Regions from separate parts of the Homo sapiens genome. Here regions 1, 2 and 3 are each linked to region 4. The links come from fine-mapping of genetic effects on gene expression. A gene starts in region 4. Each other region holds a variant in brackets. All regions are shown on one strand. Distances are from middle to middle.

What was found. PIP is the estimated chance that this variant, and not a neighbour inherited with it, causes the effect.
Region 1: its variant is fine-mapped to the expression of COX14 in lymphoblastoid cells (GTEx, PIP 0.98).
Region 2: its variant is fine-mapped to the expression of COX14 in whole blood (TOPMed, PIP above 0.99).
Region 3: its variant is fine-mapped to the expression of COX14 in prefrontal cortex (BrainSeq, PIP 0.94).

Annotation. Positions count from the first base shown.
Region 1 is chr12:51,056,681-51,059,387 of GRCh38, reverse strand. It overlaps LETMD1 (LETM1 domain containing 1), which reads right to left. Exons shown (of 9, transcript NM_015416.5): 8 at 1,260-1,356; 9 at 1-27. Among named protein-coding and RNA genes, the nearest start is that of LETMD1, 9.7 kb to the right of the region's middle. The variant G/TAAAG (reference allele first, on the strand shown) is at 981.
Region 2 is chr12:50,169,041-50,171,784 of GRCh38, reverse strand. No RefSeq gene overlaps it. Among named protein-coding and RNA genes, the nearest start is that of CERS5, 3.0 kb to the right of the region's middle. The variant C/G (reference allele first, on the strand shown) is at 1,623.
Region 3 is chr12:50,162,931-50,165,430 of GRCh38, reverse strand. The region is part of intron 1 of CERS5 (ceramide synthase 5); the gene reads left to right. LOC124902931 (a long non-coding RNA gene) reads right to left here. Exons shown (of 2, transcript XR_007063304.1): 2 at 1-405. Among named protein-coding and RNA genes, the nearest start is that of CERS5, 3.2 kb to the left of the region's middle. The variant AT/T (reference allele first, on the strand shown) is at 1,470.
Region 4 is chr12:50,110,701-50,113,444 of GRCh38, reverse strand. COX14 (cytochrome c oxidase assembly factor COX14) reads right to left here and starts at 1,209. Exons shown (of 2, transcript NM_032901.4): 1 at 1,144-1,209. GPD1 (glycerol-3-phosphate dehydrogenase 1) reads right to left here. Exons shown (of 8, transcript NM_005276.4): 8 at 2,132-2,744. RefSeq lists enhancers at 880-929, 940-1,179, 1,400-1,659, 1,720-1,769.

The sequences.
Region 1 (2,707 bases), 950 kb before region 4:
TGTGCAGCAAGAGAGACAGCTCAGCTTCTGAAAACACAGTGTTAGTGGTTTGGCTTGGGAACACTGCCTTATAACTGCCTTGTTATATATGGCTTAAGCCTGGAGGCAGGAAGCCAAGTGCAGGGAGGGGTGGAATGAAGAAGCTGTTTTTCTCAAAGTTCCCCTTCTTTGTTTCAGCCCCTGTATGCATGCCTTCCTTTCCTTCTACTATATATTCGTATCAACTCATCCTCTATTTCTCATGTGATTGCAGTAGAAAATTCAGAGATGGTAATGGTACTAAACACCAGTCGCGTTGGGATTCTTCTGGTAGAAGTTGGTGCTCTAGGGACATTTCTCAGCTTCAAGATTAGTAGGCCTACCCTAACATCCAAAGGCCCACAAAACATCAAGACCTAGCCTAAACAGGGGGCAAACAAGCCTAATACATACCCTCAGATGCTTTGTGTTTGGTCAGCAGACTGTTTTTTTTCTGAGTTTGAATGCCTTTAGACCAGTACTTCTCAACGGGGACAATCCTGCCTCTCTCCTCCCCACCCCTAGGACATTTGGCAATGTCTAGAGACATTTTTGGTTGAGACAACTGTGGGTGAAGGGGTGCTACTGGCATCTAGTGGGTAGAGGCTAGGGATACTGCTATAATAAATACCTATAAAGAACAGGATAGGCTGGACATGGTGGCTCACGCCAGTGATCCCAAAACTTTGGGAGGCCGAGGCCAGCGGATCACCTGAGGTCGGGAGTTCGAGATCAGCCTGACCAACATGGAGAAACCTGGTCTCTACTAAAAAAAAATACGAAATTAGCTGGGCGTGGTGGTGCATGCCTGTAATCCCAGCTACTTGGGAGGCTGAGACAGGAGAATCACTTGAACCCAGGAGGCAGAGGTTACGGTGAGCCGAGATCGCACCATTGCACTCCAGCCTGGGCAACAAGAGCGAAACCCCGTCTCAAAATAAATAAATAAATAAATAAATAAA[G/TAAAG]CACAGGATATTCCCCCCATAAGGAAGTGCCAAGGTTGGAAAATTCACACTAGCATGCATTCACTCTTAGGTTTCCACAGTCCCCACTACTCCCTCTTGTCTTATGGCCTACTTCGTTACCTGCCGGGCATGCAGTAGGCATGTGAGTTTGTGCCCTTTCAATTAGATGTATGTATATATATGTCTCACAGTACTCAATAATTAACTCCAAAATGACCTCAGAATAAAATACAAAAGTGACTTGGATTTTAGTGGTATAACCACAGAAATGTGTTTTACCTTTCAGGCTGCAGGAAATCTGCAGCCATTCTCCCAGCCAAGTTCGACACCTATCTTCACCAATATGCGTAGAATTCAGGCCACGGAGATAACAAGCCTATACCACTCAGAACAGAAATGGTCCTTAATAATCATAGAATGATTATGCCAAGGAAATGGAAATCCACAAACAATCCTAAATCTCCTTTAAATAAGTTACAATCTCACCGGGCACGGTGGCTCGTGCCTGTAATCCCAGCACTTTGGGAGGCCGAGGTAGGCGGATCACGAGGTCAGGAGTTGGAGACCAGCCTGGCCAATATGGTGAAACACCATCTCTACTAAAAAATACAAAAATTAGCCAGGCGTGGTGGCATGCACCTGCAGTCCCAGCTACTCGGGAGGCTGAGGCAGGAGAATCACTGGAACCTGGGAGGCGGAGGTTGCAGTGAGCCAAGATCATGCCACTGCACTCCAGCCTGGGCAACAGAGCGAGACTCTGTCTCAAAAAAAAAAAAAAAAGTTACAATCTCATTCCCACATGAAGCCTTTCCTCATGGCAATTTGAAAACTAGTGATGGACAAGATGACAAAAGCAAAGAGTCCTATATAAGCTAAAATAGTAGGTCTAAACTGCAGTATCCTTGCTTTCTGAAGTGCCAGAAGAAAAGAAATACAAACCAAAATTTCTGTGGGCAATTCCTTCCCCCTAGCTAAGTTTCTTGAGAAAAAAGACACAGAAATGAGGTGAGGAGCTGGGCGCAGTGGCTCATGCCTGTAATCCCAACACTTTGAAAGGCCAAGGCGGGAGGATCACTTGAGCCCAGGAGTTCAAGACCAGCCTGGGCAACATAGTGAGACCCTGTCTCTACAAAAATAAAAAATAATTTTATTTTATTTTTTGGGTTTTTTTTGAGACAGAGTCTCACTCTATCACCCAGGCTGGAGTGCAGTGGTGCGATCTTGGCTCACTGCAATCCACCTCCTGGGTTCAAGCAATTCTCATGTCTCAGCCTCCCAAGTACCTGGGATTACAGGCATGTGCCACCACTCCTGGCTAATTAAAAAATAATTTTTAAAAAGGCCGGGCACAGTGGTTCACGGCTGTATTCCCAGCACTTTAGGAGGCCAAGATGGGAGGATTGCTTGAGGCCAGGAGTTCAAGACCAGCTTGGTTAAAATAGTGAGACTGAAAAATAAATAAATATGCTGGGTGCGGTAGCTCACACCTGTAGTCTCGGCACTTTGGGTTGATGGATCTCTTGAGGCCAGGGGTTTGAGATCAGCCTGGCAAACATGGTGAAACCATCTCTACTAAAAATACAAAAAATTAGCTGGGCGTGGTGGTGCACACCTGTAATCCAGCTACTTGGGAGGCTGAGGTAGGAGGATCACTTGAACCGGGAGGCAGAGGTTGCAGTGAGCCAAGACTGTGCCACTGTACTCTAGCCTGGGCAACAGAATGAGAC
Region 2 (2,744 bases), 58 kb before region 4:
TTTGGGAGGCCAAGGCGGGCGGATCACCTGAGGTCAGGAGTTTAAGACCAGCCTGGCCAACATGGTGAAACCTCGTCTCATAAAAATACAAAAATTAGGCCGGGCGCAGTGGCTCACGCCTGTAATCCCAGCACTTTGGGAGGCCAAGGTGGGCGGATTACGAAGTCAGGAGATTGAGACCATCCTGCTAATACAGTGAAACCCCGTCTCTACTAAAAATACAAAAAAATTAGCCGGGTGTGGTGGCGGGCGCCTGTAGTCCCAGCTACTAGGGAGGCTGAGGCAGGAGAATGGCGTGAACCTGGAAGGCGGAGCTTGCAGTGAGCCGAGATCGCGCCACTGCTCTCCAGCCTGGGCGACAGAGCTAGACTCCGTCTCAAAAAAAAAAAAAAAAAAAAAAAAAATTCGGCCGGGCGTGGTGGCTCAAGCCTGTAATCCCAGCCATTTGCGAGGCCCAGGCGGGTGGATCACTTGGGTCAGGAGTTCCATGGCCAACATAGCGAAACACAATCTCTACTAAAAATACAAAAATTAGCAGGGCATGGTGGAGCCTGCCTGTAATCCTAGCTACTCGGGAGGCTGAGGGGAGAGAATAGCTTGAATCCAGGAGACGGAGGCTGAAGTGAGCCGAGATCCCGCCAGTGCACTCCAGCCTGGGCTACAGACCGAGACTCCGTTTCAAAAAAAAAAAAAAAAAAGCCGGGCGCGGTGGCTCACGCCTGTAATCCCAGCACTTTGGGAGGCCGAGGCGGGCGGATCACGAGGTCAGGAGATCGAGACCATCCCGGCTAAAACGGTGAAACCCTGTCTCTACTAAAAATACAAAAAATTAGCCGGGCGTAGTGGCGGGCGCCTGTAGTCCCAGCTACTTGGGAGGCTGAGGCAGGAGAATGGCGTGAACCCGGGAGGTGGAGCTTGCAGTGAGCTGAGATCCCGCCACTGCACTCCAGCCTGGGCGACAGAGCGAGACTCCGTCTCAAAAAAAAACAAAAAACAAAAAACAAAACAAAACAAACAAACAAAAAAAACACTTTAGGCTGGGCGGAGTGGCCTCACGCCTGTAGTCCCAGCACTTTGGGAGTGTGAGAAATCGGAAAGTTCTTCAAAGATTATAAAAAGTCACAATTTCTTACTATAAGATTGCTATCCACTGTGTGTGTGTGTGTGTGTGTATGTATGTGTGTGTGTGTGTGTGTGTGTGTGTGTGTGTGTGTGTGTATTCCAAATCAGCTGTCCTAGATTGCTCCTGCATGCCTGGACAGAACTAGACAAGCCCCAGCCCACAGTGCATGCCATTCCTTATTTGGTGATGCTTCCTTAATGATCCCTGGGCAACTTCCTTTTCTTTCTTTGTTCTGTTCCCCTTAACCAATTTTAAAAGTTTTAAACTAATAGCCAATCAGGTAAAGTGTAAAATGTGAGGTCCTATTCCAGCCAATGGAAAATGGACACAGCAGTAGGGTAGACACCTCAGATTATAAATAACTCTGTCTCCTTTGTTCGGTGTGCTCTCATGGCTAGACAGCTTTTGAGTAGCAGCACCCTTTCTGCAGAAAGTAAAGCTCTCCTTGCTGAGAGATCATTTGTTCCCGTGTTTTTTTGTTTTTGTTTTGTTTTCTTTT[C/G]TTTTCTTTTTGCAACACCAAAAACTTCATTCCCAACAGGGATACTGAGACAGGCAGATCACTTGAAGTCAGGAGTTCGAGACCAGCCTGGCCAACATGGTGAAACCCCAGGCTCTATCAAAAAATACAAAAATTAGTCGGGTGTGGTGGCACGTGTCTGTAGTCCCAGCTACTCGGGAGGCTGAGAAGGGAGGATCTCTTGAACCCAGAGGTGGAGGTTGCAGTGAGCAGAAATGGCACCACTGCGCTCCAGCCTGGGTGTGAGACTCCTTCTCACAAAAAAACATGCAAACAAACAAAACAGCCAAATTTAAAGGAGTTTTTTGTTTGTTTGTTTGTTTTGTTTTTTCTTTCCAAGACAAAGTCTCACTCCGTTGCCCAGGATAGAGTGCAGTGGTGCTATCTCAGCTCACTGCAACCTCCGCCTCCTGGGTTCAAGCGATTCTCTTGCCTCAGCTTCCCAAGTAACTGGGACTACAGACACGCACCACCACGCCCAGCTAATTTTTGTATTTTTAGTAGAGACGGAGTTTCACCATGTTAGCCAGGATGGTCTCGATCTCCTGACCTGTGATCCGCCTGCCTCGGCCTCCCAAAGTGCTAGGATTACAGGCGTGAGCCACCGTGCCCAGCCTAAAGGAGTTTGAGCAATGTATGATTCTCAAATTGGGCAGCCCCTGAATCACAGCAGATTCAGAGAGACCCAGCATATCCACAGAGACCCAGCATATTCACGTGGTGGAAGATTTATGGACAGCAAAATGAAAGTGAGGTACAGAAACAACCAGATTGGTTACAGATCAGCGTTTGTCTCATTTGAACGTGGTTGGAACAGTTGGCTACATTTGATTGGCCAAAATTCAGTGATTGGCACTGGTGTGGTCTACGTTCGATTTACACCTCCACTTGTTACAGTTCACAATGTACAGAAAACCTTTAGGCCGAACTTAAATATGTAAGGAGGCAGCTTTAGATTAAACTTGACTTAACACTAGCTACCACTTCTTACCTACATAACTTTGGGCAAGTTGTTTGGCCTCACTGGACCTCAGTTTACTTATCCAGTGGGGATAACAAGATCAACTTTATAGGGTGAAGGAGTGAAATAACCTGTGTAAAATG
Region 3 (2,500 bases), 52 kb before region 4:
TCTTTTTTTTTTGAGACGGAGTCTCGCTCTGTCGCCCAGGCTGGAGTGCAGTGGCGCGATCTCAGCTCACTGCAAGCTCCGCCTCTCGGGTTCACGCCATTCTCCTGCTTCAGTCTCCCGAGTAGCTGAAACTACAGGCGCCCGCCACCATGTCCGGCTAATTTTTTGTATTTTTAGTAGAGACGGGGATTCACCGTCTTAGCCAGGAAGGTCTCGATCTCCTGACCTCGTAATACGCCTGCCTCGGCCTCCCAAAGTGCTGGGATTACAAGCGTGAACCGCCGCGCCCGGCCTTGTTTTGTCTTTTTACGTGTAATCGTTGTAGTTAGTCATCCTGGAGTGGAGGCACAAACTGCTTGTCTGTCTTTGGAATAAACTAGATCCAGGTACTCTCTTCCATAGTCTCTGTATATGAGGGCCAAAAAAAAAAAGGAGGAAGGCAATGTAATCACTACAAAGGAAAATACACAAGTCAGGACAAATTTTTTTTTAAAAGGTGATTTTCATAGAAAAACATCTCTGCTTTTCATATAAATATGTGCCAATATGGAAATTTCCCCATGTTAGTGGTAAGAGGAAATAGTTTTGTTGCTTATAAACACCCATTTTATATAAACTTACGTATCTCTTGAGATTCCAAAGTGTTCCCTCAGATGGCTGAAGACATATATCCCCTGGCAGAGCTGCTGGAAGGGATCCTTTACCTGTGGGAATTCTATCTGAGTGTTTCTATGGTGCTCCAGTGTCAGAGGAGTACAGGTGGATGGGAATACTGAGCTGAAAGCATTCTAGTATGATAATTCTTGGCTAGTAAAGACAGGCACCTTGTTTGTCTCATGTTTGCTCTTAGGAAAGTTTAACCCTAGAAGCACTCTTGCTATTTTGTTTCTTTTAAGACCCATTACCTCAGTAATATAATTCACTGCTGACTTGCCAATTCCTCTTTTACCGTTCTGGTCTTCCATAAAGAAAATAGACCACTCCACTCTTATTGTTGTTTTTGAGACAGGGTCTCAGCCTCACCCAGGCTGGACTGCAGTGGCACGAAGCTCACTCCAGCCTCGACCTCTTTGGCTCAAGCAATCCTCCTACCTCAGCCTCCCAAGTAGCCAGGACCATAGGTGCACACCACTATGCCCAGCTAATTAAAAAAAAAAAAAAAAATTGGGAGAGCGGGGCATGGTGGCTCACACCTGTAATCCCAGCACTTTGGGAGGCCGAGGCAGGGAGATCACTTGAGGCCAGGAGTTCGAGACCAGCCTGGCCAACATGGTGAAACCCCATCTCTACTAAAAATATAAAAATTAGCTGGGCATAGTGGTACATGCCTGTAATCCCAGCTACTCAGGAGGCTGAGGCATGAGAATTGCTTGAGTTGGAGAGGCAGAGGTTGCAGTGAGCCAAGATCACACTGTTGCACTCCAGCCTGGGCTGCAGAGGAAAACTCTGTCTCAAAAAAAAAAAAAAAA[AT/T]TGTAGAGGCTGGGCATGGTGGCTCATGCCTGTAATCCCAGCACTTTGGGAGGCCGAGGAGGGCAGATCACTTGAGCCTAGGAGTTTGAGACCAGCCTTGGCAACATGGTGAAACCTTGTCTCTACAAAAAAATTTAAAAATTAGCTGGGTGTGATGGTGCATGCCTATAGTCTCTAGTCTCATCTACTTGGGAGGCTGAGGCAGGAGGATTGCTTGAACCCGGGAGGTTGAGACTGCAGTGAGCCGTGATCAAACCACTGTACTTCAGCCTGGGTGATAGAGTGAGACCCTGTCTCAGAAAAATAAATAAAATAAATTTTTGTAGAGGCCTGAGCTCCTGGCCTCAAGCGATCCTGCTGCCTCAGCTTCCCAAAGTTTTGGGATTACTGGCATGAGCCACTGCCCCTGGCCTAGAGCCACTTGTAGAATGCAATAGAAGGCATATCAAAAATATCGGGGCATGGCCTTGCATGCTGGCTCACACCTGTAATCCCAGCACTTTGGGAGGCCGAGGCAGGCAGATCACTTGAGGTCAGGAGTTTGAGACCAGCCTGGCTAACAACATGAAATCTCATCTCTACTAAAAATACAAAAATAGCCCCGCGTAGTGGCGGGCGCCTGTAATCCCAGCTACTTGGGAGGCTGAGGCAGGAGAATGGCTTGAACCTGGAAGGTGGAGGTTGCAGTGAGCTGAGATCGTGCCACTGGACTCCAGCCTGGGCAACAGAGCGACACTCCATCTCAAAAATAAATAAATATTGGGGCCTGGCATGGTGGCTCACACCTGTAATCCCAACACTTTGGAGGCCAAGGTGAGAGAATTGCTTGAGACCAGGACTTTGAGATCAGCCTGGGCAGCATAGCGAGACCCTGATCCTACAAAAAATAAAAATGTTAGCCAGATGTGGTGGCATGCATCTGTAGTCCCAGCTACTCAGGAGGCTGATGCAGGAAGATGGCTTGAGCCCAGGAGTTCAAAGCTGCAATGAACTATGATAGCGCCAGTGCACTCCAGCCTGGGCAAAGGAG
Region 4 (2,744 bases):
GTAGTCCCAGCTACTCTGGAGGCTGAGGCAGGAGAATGGCATGAACCCGGAAGGCGGAGCTTGTAGTGAGCCGAGATCCCGCCACGGGACCCCAGCCTGGGCGACAGAGCAAGACTCCGTCTCAAAAAAAAAAAAAAAAAATTGCGTAAACGTATGGGTAGAAGTGCGATTTTGTTACATGCATACACTGCATAGTGGTCAACTCAGGGCTTTTAAGGTATCCATCATCTTTTATCTACTTTTTGTTTGGCACTTAGAGAGTAGTACATCGGCCGGGTACGGTGGCTCACGCCGGTAATCCCAACACTTTGGGAGGCCGAGGCGGGAGGATGGCTTGAGCTCAGGAGTTGGAGACCAGGTTGGGCAACATAGGGAGACCTTTTCTCTATTTAAAAACAACAACAACAACAACAAAAAAAAAACCTTTTTTTAAAAATTACCCGGGCGTGGTGGCGCACACCTGCAGCCTGAGCGACAAAGCAAGACCCTGTCTCAAAATAACATAACATAACATAACATAACATAACATAACATAACGTACATCATGCTACGGAGGCCGCTAAAAAGAACATGGCTTCTGTCATACAGGAGCTTATGGTCTCATGGAGAGGCACTGTGAGAGTTCAGAGACAACAGCTCAAAGACAGGGTGGGGGCTTGAGAAAACTTAGCAGAAAGGTGTAGGGGTGGGAATCGGGGTGGGAGTGGAACTGTCTTTTTAGAAGGATGGCCTGGAGAAGAGGAGCAGTGAGAGCATTCCAGGAAGTGAAAGCGGTCAAGAGGTGGAGCTGGATAGCCGATATGCACGAAGGGTGCCCCGGAGAGCCACTTATCAGGACGCAGAGGTCTATAGAGCAAGGAAGAGGCAGAGTTGGAGCGTGGAGGGTCGAGACGCCAGGCAGGAGTCGAGGTTTGACAGGATTAGCGCTGAGCTCTAGCAAGACTGACCTACTGCTGCGAGGAGCTTGGGCTTGGGCAGGAAGCAGTGCAGCTCGCGGTCCGCAACGCAACAGAAGCGGGTGAATTCAAGGGCACCAGGCCTGCAGACTAGGGGATGGGAGGACGCGGCAAGCGGAGACTGGCCCAGGTGGGCGCGCAGGCAGTGGGACTGGCAGCCCCTGCTCGGCCCTAGCCGGCAGCGTACCTGGATGCTGCAGCTCCTTCGCATCCAACCGAGGCCTCCTCAGGCAGGCAGGGTCTCGAGGCCACTGTCTACGCAACTTCCCAGCACAGCCGAACGCAGCACTCGGAACCAGACACGTGAGGGTAGCGTCCCTGGACAACCCTGAACGCCTCAGCTATTGGTGCAGAAAGCAACTTTCTCCCTCCCACCTGCCGGGTTAGCCTCTAGGATTCGGCTTGCCGCGCTATAAAGGGAACTGCGCATCAGACGCGGCACAACTCCGCCCACTAAGGCGGGAGTCCGCGCAGGCCGTCACTCTGGCTGGAGGCCGGCTTTGAACTTCCGGCTTCCGGGCCCGTTATCCTTACTACGCATCCTCAGACGCGCCGTGCTCTCGGAGAGGCCCGCTGAATTCTGGGGGCTGTGGTTTCTCTCCCTCGAGGGAGGGTCTTTGGCGAGCCAAGCTCTGGAACCGGAAGTTTTAGGATGCTAAATCAGAGTCAGCCAATCCTCAGCCTACGGTGCGGTGACGTCGCCAGTAGCTGGGTAGATTTTCGCAGCCGGCCTTCTGGAGGTGGATCGCGCGCCCCCTAGAGCCCGGCTGTGGGCCTAGTCCAGGTAGGGGCCCGAGGGGCACCGCGATGCCTGGACCGCTAAGGATGCGGCAGCTTGGCCCGTGACCAAGGAATGGGCACAAGGGATGAGAGTCTAACGTTTCCGTCCCGTGTGTGATCTCTATTCTTGCAGGAGGCATGATAAAGCCCCTAAGAAGGGCCGGCAAGGCCGGGGCCAGCTTGCGGCGAGGGCGGGAGGGGGCGCTGGCGGGAGGGGAGAGAGAGGGATGGGGACTGAGTGGGCACCGCCGCTGACCCCTGGAGTAGCTGCGATTATGGAGGAGGGATTTCTTTTTTCATTTTTCCTACGGTAAGAGGGAAAACATACGTGCAATGATACGCGCCAGCACACGCACTGCCACATGCACTGAAGCTCCCTCTCCCAACTCTTCTTGTTTCTGGAAAAAACACGCTTTATTGGGTAGACAAATAGGCCTGATGGGAAGGCCTGAGTCACAGTGCACTGGGGAGTGAACAAAAGTAGGCAAAGTGCTTGAAGCTTCCCCTTTGCCCCCACCTTAACCTCCTGGGGAGGCAGCTCTGGACACTCAGTACCCAGACCTGGGCTCAGCAAGGCCTGGGGTGACTGTGCCCCTCACTCCTGCTGCCTGATCTGGGCAGCCCCACCCTTCACTGGTAAGACAGAATTCTCAAGGGATAGGCGCAGAGAGGAGCCCGCCTCCCTGGTTCATTGGAGAGTAACAGGGTTTTAGCATAATGCTGGCCAGAGCCAGTGTGCCAGGTGCTGCCACACAGGAAGCTGACAGCCCTGCTGGACGGGCGGGAGCCTCTCGGGCCCTCCGGACTATTTATAGCTGGAGGCCTAGGCTGCTGACCTGTGACATTCCTCTGCTGCCACCCCATCCTGGAGCAAGGCAAGTGCAGAGCACACTCCTCCTCCTCCCCTCCTGTTCTTTCCTCACCCCAGGGAGTAGGGTGGTTTTGATTTTCTTCCTCCTCCTTGAGTTTCCCAGCTCTCGAGTTGCTGGTGTTGTCAGTACCTCACGA